2 separate regions of the Homo sapiens genome follow, and region 2 is reported to be linked to region 1. Evidence: microRNA targets listed by miRTarBase, many of them from high-throughput screens and not tested one by one. Region 1 holds a microRNA gene; the other region holds the end of a gene's coding sequence.

Region 1 (4,000 bases):
TTGTGGCCCTAAGGCCTCCTATCTGTTTCCTCCTGAACTGACAGCTCTGAGACGGCCGAGTGGGGTCTGCCCTGGTTACCCCTGAGTCCCCAGCTCCCAGCACAGGGCCTGGTGATATATCCATGGCAAGGCACCCCATTTCCCTCACTTCTGTCCCCAGCCACCACCCAGCCCACTCACCTCTCCCACTCCTCCTCGGCCTCCTCGGCAGTGAGCGTGCGATGCCGGGCCAGCGGTGTGAAATTGTACCAGTTGTGCACGGGGAAGGCCTCGAAGGCCCCGTCGGGGCACTGGGTGAAGATGTAGTAGGACGTGTTCTCTGTTACGCCTCCCTTCTTGATGCCCTTGAACCTGCAGGGAGCCACGGTCATGGCCTGGCCCATAGGGACCAGCCCCAGCCCCCCCGTGTCCCCCCGGGGCCTGCCTCCTTTATGGCACTTGCCATAGGAGGAAGACCAAGAAATGCCCATGAGGCCTGGGCAGGCCCTTCAACCACCTGGGCCTCGTCAATTTCCACATCTGGGGAACAGGGCCGGCGCACCTACCCTGCAAAGTGCTGGGCGTGTGCACATCGGGATCATTTCTGGAAAGACTGTGTGAGATTATCTCAGGAGAGCCCAACCCTGCAGTCAAACTGTCTACATTTGCCTCCAGCTCTGCTATCTGTGGGCCACACCCGGGAAACTGAGGAGCCAAGTGAGAAGATGGGGCGGGAAGGCATGGCCAAATTTTTTTTTTTGAGATGGAGTCTCGCTCTGGCACCCAGGCTGGAGTGCAGTGGCACCATCTCAGCTCACTGCAACCTCCACCTCCCGGGTTCAAGCAATTCTCATGCCTCAGCCTCCCGAGTAGCTGGGATTACAGGTGTCTGCCACCACACCCAGCTAATTTTTGTAGTTTTAGTAGAGACAGGGTTTCACCATGTTGGCCAGGCTAGTTTCGAACCCCTGACCCCACGTAATCCGCCCGCCTCTGCCTCCCAAAGGGCTAGGATTACAGGCGTGAGCCACCGCGCCCAGCCATGGCATGGCCAAATCTGAAGTGGACACCTGGCCCGGGCCACCATTTCCTCAAGCCTAAACAACTGCCCAGCCTCCTTGAGGCCTCTACCTCATTCTTTTCTACCCCAAAGTTCCGGACAGTCTGGGTGAGTGCCTCTTCCCTGCCTACAGCTTTCCAAGGCTCCGCTGGACCCAGCACATCCTGGCACCCACTGCCCTGTGTGAGCTGCCTGTGTCTGTCACTATCACCCAACTGCTGTGCCTGGAGCACCCTTCATCAACCTAACCTGGACCCCTCCTGTTCTGCCCTCAGTCTGCCCCCTCTGAGAGGTCATCTCAAGTGTCATGAGCTCCCAGGGCTGGCCACCTAAGCTTCCTGCATTGTGGCACTCAGAGCTGCCTCAGAGCCAGGCACAAGCACCAACTCAGTGAACTGTCTTCAAAAACACAACCCCAGGGCCTGGGCAGTGGCTCATACCTATAATCCCAGCACTTTGGGAGACCAAGGTAGGAGGATCACTTGACCCCAGGAGTTCAAGACCAGCTTGAGCAACGCAGCAAGACCCCATCTCTACCAAAAATACAAAAATTAGCCAGGCATGGTGGGGCGTGCCTATAGTCCCAGCTACTCAGGATGCTGAGGTGGGAAGATCTCGAGCCCAGGAGTTGGAGCCTGCAGTGAGCTACGATCGCACCACTGCACTCCAGCCTGGGCAACGGAGTGAGACCCTGTCTCAAAATAAATAAGTAGGCTGGGCACGGTGGCTCACGCCTGTAATCCCAGCACTACGGGAGGCCGAGGCGGGAGGATCGCCAAGTTCGAGACCAGCCTGACCAATATGGTGAAACCCTGTCTCTACTAAAAATACAAAAATTAGCTGGGCGTGGTGGTGGCAGGCACCTGTAATCCCAGCTACTCAGGAGGCTCAGGCAGGAGAATAACTTGAACCTGGGAGGTGTGGGTTGCAGTGAGCCAAGATCGTGCTACTGCACTCCAGCCTGGGCGACAGAGCAAGACTCTGTCTCAAAAAAATACAAGTAAGTAAAATAAGATAACATAAATAAATAAATAAATAAATAAATAATAAAATCCTACAGGGATGGAAGTGCCAGCACTTCCACTGCAGCAGTGGGAATCTGAGGTTCAGAGAGGGTACCCCACAAAGTATGTAAGTTGAGGCCTGGGGATGTGGACTGGTCACTAAGCCGGCACCGCCACCGCCCCACCACTTACTTCCTGCCTGATTTGCCGTTGACCCGGAGCAGCCAGGGCTGGTCCTCGGGCCGGAACTCCTTGAGGACGATGCCGTACTTCTTCCTCCGAGCCTCCTCCCGAAGCTTGCGGTTGAACTCACTGCCCGCGCCCGATTCGGGCATCTCCTCCTCTTGGTAGATTTTCTTGTTGCTCAAGTCCCGCTCCAGCCGAGCCTAGGGGAGCAGGAAGCAAAGCCTCTCAGGGTCCCTGGCTTTGCTTGCGCAGTGCCCCCCTCCAGGAACGCCCTTCCTTGCCCTAGGCCAAGCTCTAGATTCTCAAAACCAACTTACCACTTGGCAACAAGGGAGGAGAACGGTAGCCTTTGACAAATCTGGGTAAAGGGAATTTGGGCGAGCCTTGCGCTCTATTTTTGCAACTTAAAAGCTTGAAATTATTTCCAAATTAAAATTAAAGAGAAAAAGACCACCTGGTGACCATCAAGCAGGCCATCGGAGGCAAAATTCCTTATCTGAGGAATGTAGAAGTAATTAATTAGACTTCCCTATTATCTACAGCAGGCATCTGGTTCCAGGATTCTTTTCAAAAAATGTCTAAGTACCTAGAATTTCCACACATCTCTCCAGAATGCATGCATATCGAAACTCATTGTGCTGTGGCTCACACCTGTAATCCCAGAACTTTGGGAGGCCAAGGCAGAAGGATCACTTGAGCTCAGGAGTTTAAGACCAGCCTGGCATCAGAATGGCTTGAACCTGGGAGGCGGAGGTTGCAGTGAGCCGAGATCATGCCACTGCACTCCAGCCTGGGTGATAGAGTGACACTCTGTCTTAAGAAAAAAAAGGCCAGGCGCGGTGGCTCACGCCTGTAATCCCAGCACTTCGGGAGGCCAAGGCAGGTGGATCACGAGGTCAGGAGATTGAGACCATCCTGGCTAACACGGTGAAACCCCGTCTCTACTAAAAATACAAAAAATAAGCCGGGCATGATGGCAGGCGCCTATAATCCCAGCTACTTGGGAGGCTGAGGCAGGAGAATGGCGTGAACCCGGGAGGCGGAGCTTGCAGTGAGCCGAGATCCTGGCGCTGCACTCCAGTCTGGGCGACAAAGCAAGACTCAGTCCCCAAAAAAAAAAAAAAAAAAAAAAAAGACCAGCCTGGGCAACATAGTGAGATCCTATATCTATTTCCTAAAAATAAAAAGGCTGGGCATGGTGGAAGGCTGAGGCGGGTGGATCACTTGAGGTCAGGAGTTCAAGACCAGCCTGACCAACATGGCGAAACTTCGTCTCTACTAAAAATACAAAAATTAGCTAGGCGTGGTGGTGGGCGCCTGTAATCCCAGCTACTTGGGAGGCTGAGGCAGGAGAATGGCTTGAACCTGGGAGGTGGAGGTTGCAGTGAGCCCAGGTCGCGCCACTGCACTCCAGCCTGGATGACAAGAGACTCCATCACAAAAAAATAAAATAAAATAAATAAAAAGAAACTCATTGTGCAACACTTGCTGACATTAAGGCACCAAAATCTCTACAAATTAACAATTTATCGTGACCTACATGGCTAATGTGATCCGAATTACCCTTAAGCTCTTGATTTAAGGTCCATATATACCATTTCCAAAACACTCTAGAATCAGCCACATCTCATAACCTCCACTGCCTCCAGTGCCCTGCCAGGACTCACCTAGACCAGTCCAGTTGCTTCTACCTTGGTCTCCGTTTATTTGCCCTCAAACCCACAGTTTGTCTCCCCATAGCAGCCAGATCACACACACTACAACTTCCCAA
Region 2 (4,523 bases), not on the chromosome of region 1:
GCAGGCACCTGTAATCCCAGCTACTCGGGAGGTTGAGGCAGGAGAATTGCTTGAACCTGGGAGGCGGAGGTTGCAGTGAGCCGAGATCGCGCTATTGCACTCCAGCCTGGGTGACAGAGCCAGACTCCGTCTCAAAAAAAAAAAAAAAAAGGGCTCCGCACCCAGGTCAGACAGTTCATGAAGGTGATAATATATAGAGAACACACACCTCAGACTCACAGCCTTTCTCCACTGCAAGCGTAAGAGACTGGTTTTATTTCAAGAATAACTAAGGGTATATTAACACATGTATCTCAAAGTAACATTGAATTATTGAAGACATACTGTTCCAATACTCAAACAGTTCACAGAGAGGGGACAGGAACCAATGTACTGGAAAAACACACTTGTATTATATGTAAAAATCGATGGCCAATATTTCTCTTATTAAGAGAAAAATACCCAACAAATTAAAAGGTGAAAAGCTGTGCTCAAAAAAAAAATAAAAAAACCCAAAACCTTGCATGCACAAGCTAAGCTCAGACCCTTAAAAACCAGATAGAAATTGACAAAGTCAAACAAAGGAGAAAAACTAGCTGAACTTCTCAAACTAAATTATATCAAATATATGTGCATTTTAGCAAAATAAACCACTAAACTATACTTTGTAGACATATTCATTACATTTATTTTAATAACTACTTCATTATAGGCTGACTGGCTTTCCTGTGTGGATAAAGTGTGATCTGAAAGCAACGCTGACTGAATGTAAATAAAGCAAACGTTCCCAGCCATTTTTGGCATGAACATGGACTACAGCGTTTAATGCAGACCCAAAGCCACACATTTTTGGGGAGTAGGTTTTACTTGCAGTACAGATTCTTTTCATTACAGATCACAAAAATACAATACAATGTGACAAGCCCAGTTTAAGAATTACATGCAGTAGCTCATATTAACACAAACAGCTCCCCACGAAGGCCGACAAGAGCTAAATCCGGTGTCAACAGGGTTCATTGCAGGAGTAGAATAATCCGGTACAAGGAACGAGAACAGATTGAAACCAGAAACAAAGCCATGCCTGACAGTCAATCAAGGTCAATCTGATCATTTCCATGACCAATTACCCATGTGAACAATTCAAAATGACGGTGGAAGAGCTGAGCACCCTGTACTCACACACGATGCCCACAGCTTGGCAAAAGGTACACAAACACTTGTTTGAAAAGAATGACTGAAACGTCTACTTTCAAAGAACAATGGACACTTTTAAAGGGAATGCTGACATTTAACTTTACAAAATGAAATTTAAAATGTAAGTAGTACTCTGGGGAAGAATATGCCTGAAGCGTAACCATGATTTCCCAGTGGTATAATTAAACAGAGCTCTAATTTAAAAACTCTTCCTGGGCTGGGCGCCGTGGCTCACACCCGTTAATCCCAGCACTTTGGGGGGCCGAGGCGGGCGGATCACGAGGTCAGGAGTTCGAGACCAGCCTGACCATCATGGTGAAATCTCAACTCTATTAAAAATACAAAAATTAGCCAGGCATGGTGCCACATGCCTGTACTCCCAGCTACTCAGGTGGCTGAGGCAGGAGAATCGCTTGAACCTGGGAGGTGGAGGTTGCAGTGAGCTGAGATGGCACCACTGCACTGCAGCCTGGGCAACAGAGACTCCATCTCAAAAATAAATAAAAAATAAAAACTCTTCCTCAAGATTTTAAGAGCATTCTAAAATTATGATACAGAAAAGCAATCCTACAACTACTGTGGCCAAAACGTGGATTCCAATGACCTGCCTTGAGCCCGCGGTTGCCAGGAGTTGGACCTGCAGTAGTATGGGAAGCTCACGGCCTAAATACCGACTGCCCTCTGACCCCACCGTCCAGCGATTCTAGAACATTTCTAGTAGGAAAGACATAGCAAGGGATTTTCATGATTGGGAAATACTGAGAGACAAGCTGAAGATTTGTTAAGGGCTATGCTTCTGTCATCTTTTAGGTATTTAAGGCTACTCCTTTAGCTAGCTACTTTGAGCTGTTTAAAGTGACTATCTCCCTACACAGAGTTACACAATGAGCATCTCTGAAAGAGAATATTACCCTGGATTTCCAAAGATGTACTCTAACAGGATGACCAGGCAAAAGGTGACCCGGGGGAGGAGTCTGTTATAACACTCGGACCCACATGTTCTCAAGGCACTTCAGAACTTTGGGAAATCATTTTGTACCGGATCCTCAGAAAGCATTTATGGAAATACACATCCTTTAGAAGAGAGATGCTTCACGCACGACTGACTTTAATGGCTCTTTCAGGCAACAGAGAAACCACCACATGCCCATGACATGAGCTCAGTTGTTCAGCAGGCACCCAGAGGAAGCCTTTAATTCCGAGCAGGTTTCACTGATTGGTCCTGGAGCAGGTGTAGTTATGACATTTACTAAGTGAGTGGTTAACAGCTGACTGCCTAGAAAACCTAGGAAGGCCTGGTCCCTCTGGGTTACTGACAGCGTCTACCCTCACGTTGTAAAACAGCACCGGGGAGGTGTGACAAGGCTGTCCATTTTACAGCCTTGGACAACAGAAGAGAACCATTATGTGCTACATTCAGACTTTCTGATTTAGTTTTAGTATAACCTGACATTGGTAACCCGTCTCCAGTATTCATCCTCCAACTACAGGTATGAGTGTTTCCTTTTTTTTTTTTTAAAGGCCCATTAACTTAATTTAAATGTTCCCATCCTTATGAATTTACTCACTAAGGAAAACTATAAGCTCAGATTTTACAAACAAAAGCAACTTACAAGGTATTATTGCTGGTCCTTTATCCCTTCTCTTTAATGCAATCTCAAAGGTTTTTTGGCTATTAGTTTTCATAATTTTCTTATGTTGCACACAAAAACAAGATTCCTCTCTAAAACGTAGAGGATGGGGAAAATGCAGATGCTGTTTTTCCAACTAAAAATGTTTACAAAAGAACAGACTGTCTGAACAAACAAAAAAACCCCACCCCGTTAAGCTGGGTAGGACCAATCAGGCCTTATAAGTGAAAAAAAAGCCTTCTATCGAGCATAATGAAACAGAACATGTACTGCTTGTGTTTGAACCTTACTCTTATTTAACCAAAAATTTCCCCTTTCTCATAATTTTCCTAGTATTATGTAAGGTTATGCCTAGTTCTAGATTCTGAAAGACCTGCATTTTAATGCTTGCACAACCCATTTAAAATCTACAAAAGCTGCCTCTATTTTGTTTTCTGATTAAAAACGCAAAAAAAAGGACAAACCAAACAAACCACACCACATCATACAGATAATGATCCGAATGGAAAAGTTAACGTGCTGTAATGATATTTGTCTTGCAACATCAAAAGCAGCAGATACTGAATAGAATTTGCTTCAATCATAAATACTGAGACTGAAATATGCACGTATAAATCAATGAACTGAAAGCTCTCTATACATAGAAGCACATATGAAGTGCAAAACAGTATCAAAAGTGAGATCTCTGGTATTTCAGTACTCCCATTCATCAGATTTCAGGTCGAGATAGCTGAGAATATTCTGCGCAAGCCTCACAGCTTGTTTCCTGGCAGCCTTACACTTCTCTTCTCCCTGCGGATCAACAGCATCCAGGGCTAGCAGCTGCTTGGTGAGCAGCTCTTCCAGCCGGATGTAGTTCTTATCGGTTCGATTTCCATCAAATGAAAGAACTTCTCCCTGGATCTCAGACAAGTTTCCAAGGACGTTCCAGACGGCTTTATGGGATGGGTGCTCCTCACAAGCAAACAGCTTTCTTTTCTCAAGGGCCTCCTTCAAGTCAATATATGTGATCAGAGTTTGCACCTCGATCACTGCTCTTCTCCTGGCTTCCCGGATGCAGGGGTTTTTTTCAAGACTTACCTCATCCAACTGTCCAATTAAACCCTGCAATTCTGTTTTGGAGCTCAGGTACAATTCAGAAGGGTTTTGTGCTTGGAGAAGTTCATTTTTTATTTCTCTCATTCTCTTGAGGACCTTTTCTATTTTTAAAATGGAATGATTCTGTCTCAGGTCAAATGCTTTAGTTGTGTCTGCTTCCTCTTCCAAATCCAGATATTTCAATAATTTGTTGATATCTTCTACTACCTCCCTCCGATAATTTCTGATTTCTGTCCGGCCGCACACATCTAGAGCATCCAGGTCAGCGATCAGCCCCGAGAGCACACAGGATAAGTGCCTGCAGGTCTCATTGTTGTTCACACCCATCAGAAGTGCAATCAGGACCCCTCGGGCCTTGTTCACCTCACACATCACGAAGTTGATTTTGGCAACGGAAGGATGTGCATCCTCGGAAAGCGGCAGGGAAGGCTGCTTTTTCATGCAGTCTTCGATTATCTCTTGCACCGCACAGATTTTGGTTAAAGTGTGATACCTTGCTTTCCGCAAGGAGATTTTTCCTCCAGTTTTAACATGTGTCAGCCTCAGAATGATATCTTGGATGCCTTCTTCAAACTCATCAGTTACGCAGTTGCCTCCATTATAAAATGGCACAATTTTCTC

What was found. The annotated mature microRNA hsa-miR-6885-5p reads AGGGGGGCACUGCGCAAGCAAAGCC and lies in region 1 at 2,466-2,490, opposite strand. An mRNA with a match to its seed (bases 2 to 7 or 8) in the 3' UTR can be bound and repressed. Matches are read on the target gene's strand: a 7mer-m8 pairs with bases 2 to 8, a 7mer-A1 pairs with bases 2 to 7 and ends in A, and an 8mer does both.
Region 2: miRTarBase lists BAG5 as a target of hsa-miR-6885-5p. Seed matches in the 3' UTR shown: 8mer at 1,429-1,436.

What each region holds. Positions count from the first base shown.
Region 1 is chr19:6,387,209-6,391,208 of GRCh38, forward strand. MIR6885 (microRNA 6885) reads right to left here and starts at 2,495; the gene lies at 2,430-2,495. GTF2F1 (general transcription factor IIF subunit 1) reads right to left here. Exons shown (of 13, transcript NM_002096.3): 4 at 2,236-2,429; 5 at 181-351. RefSeq lists an enhancer at 1-324.
Region 2 is chr14:103,556,324-103,560,846 of GRCh38, forward strand. It overlaps BAG5 (BAG cochaperone 5), which reads right to left. Exons shown (of 2, transcript NM_001015048.3): 2 at 228-4,523. The coding sequence ends at 3,498. Among named protein-coding and RNA genes, the nearest start is that of BAG5, 4.1 kb to the right of the region's middle.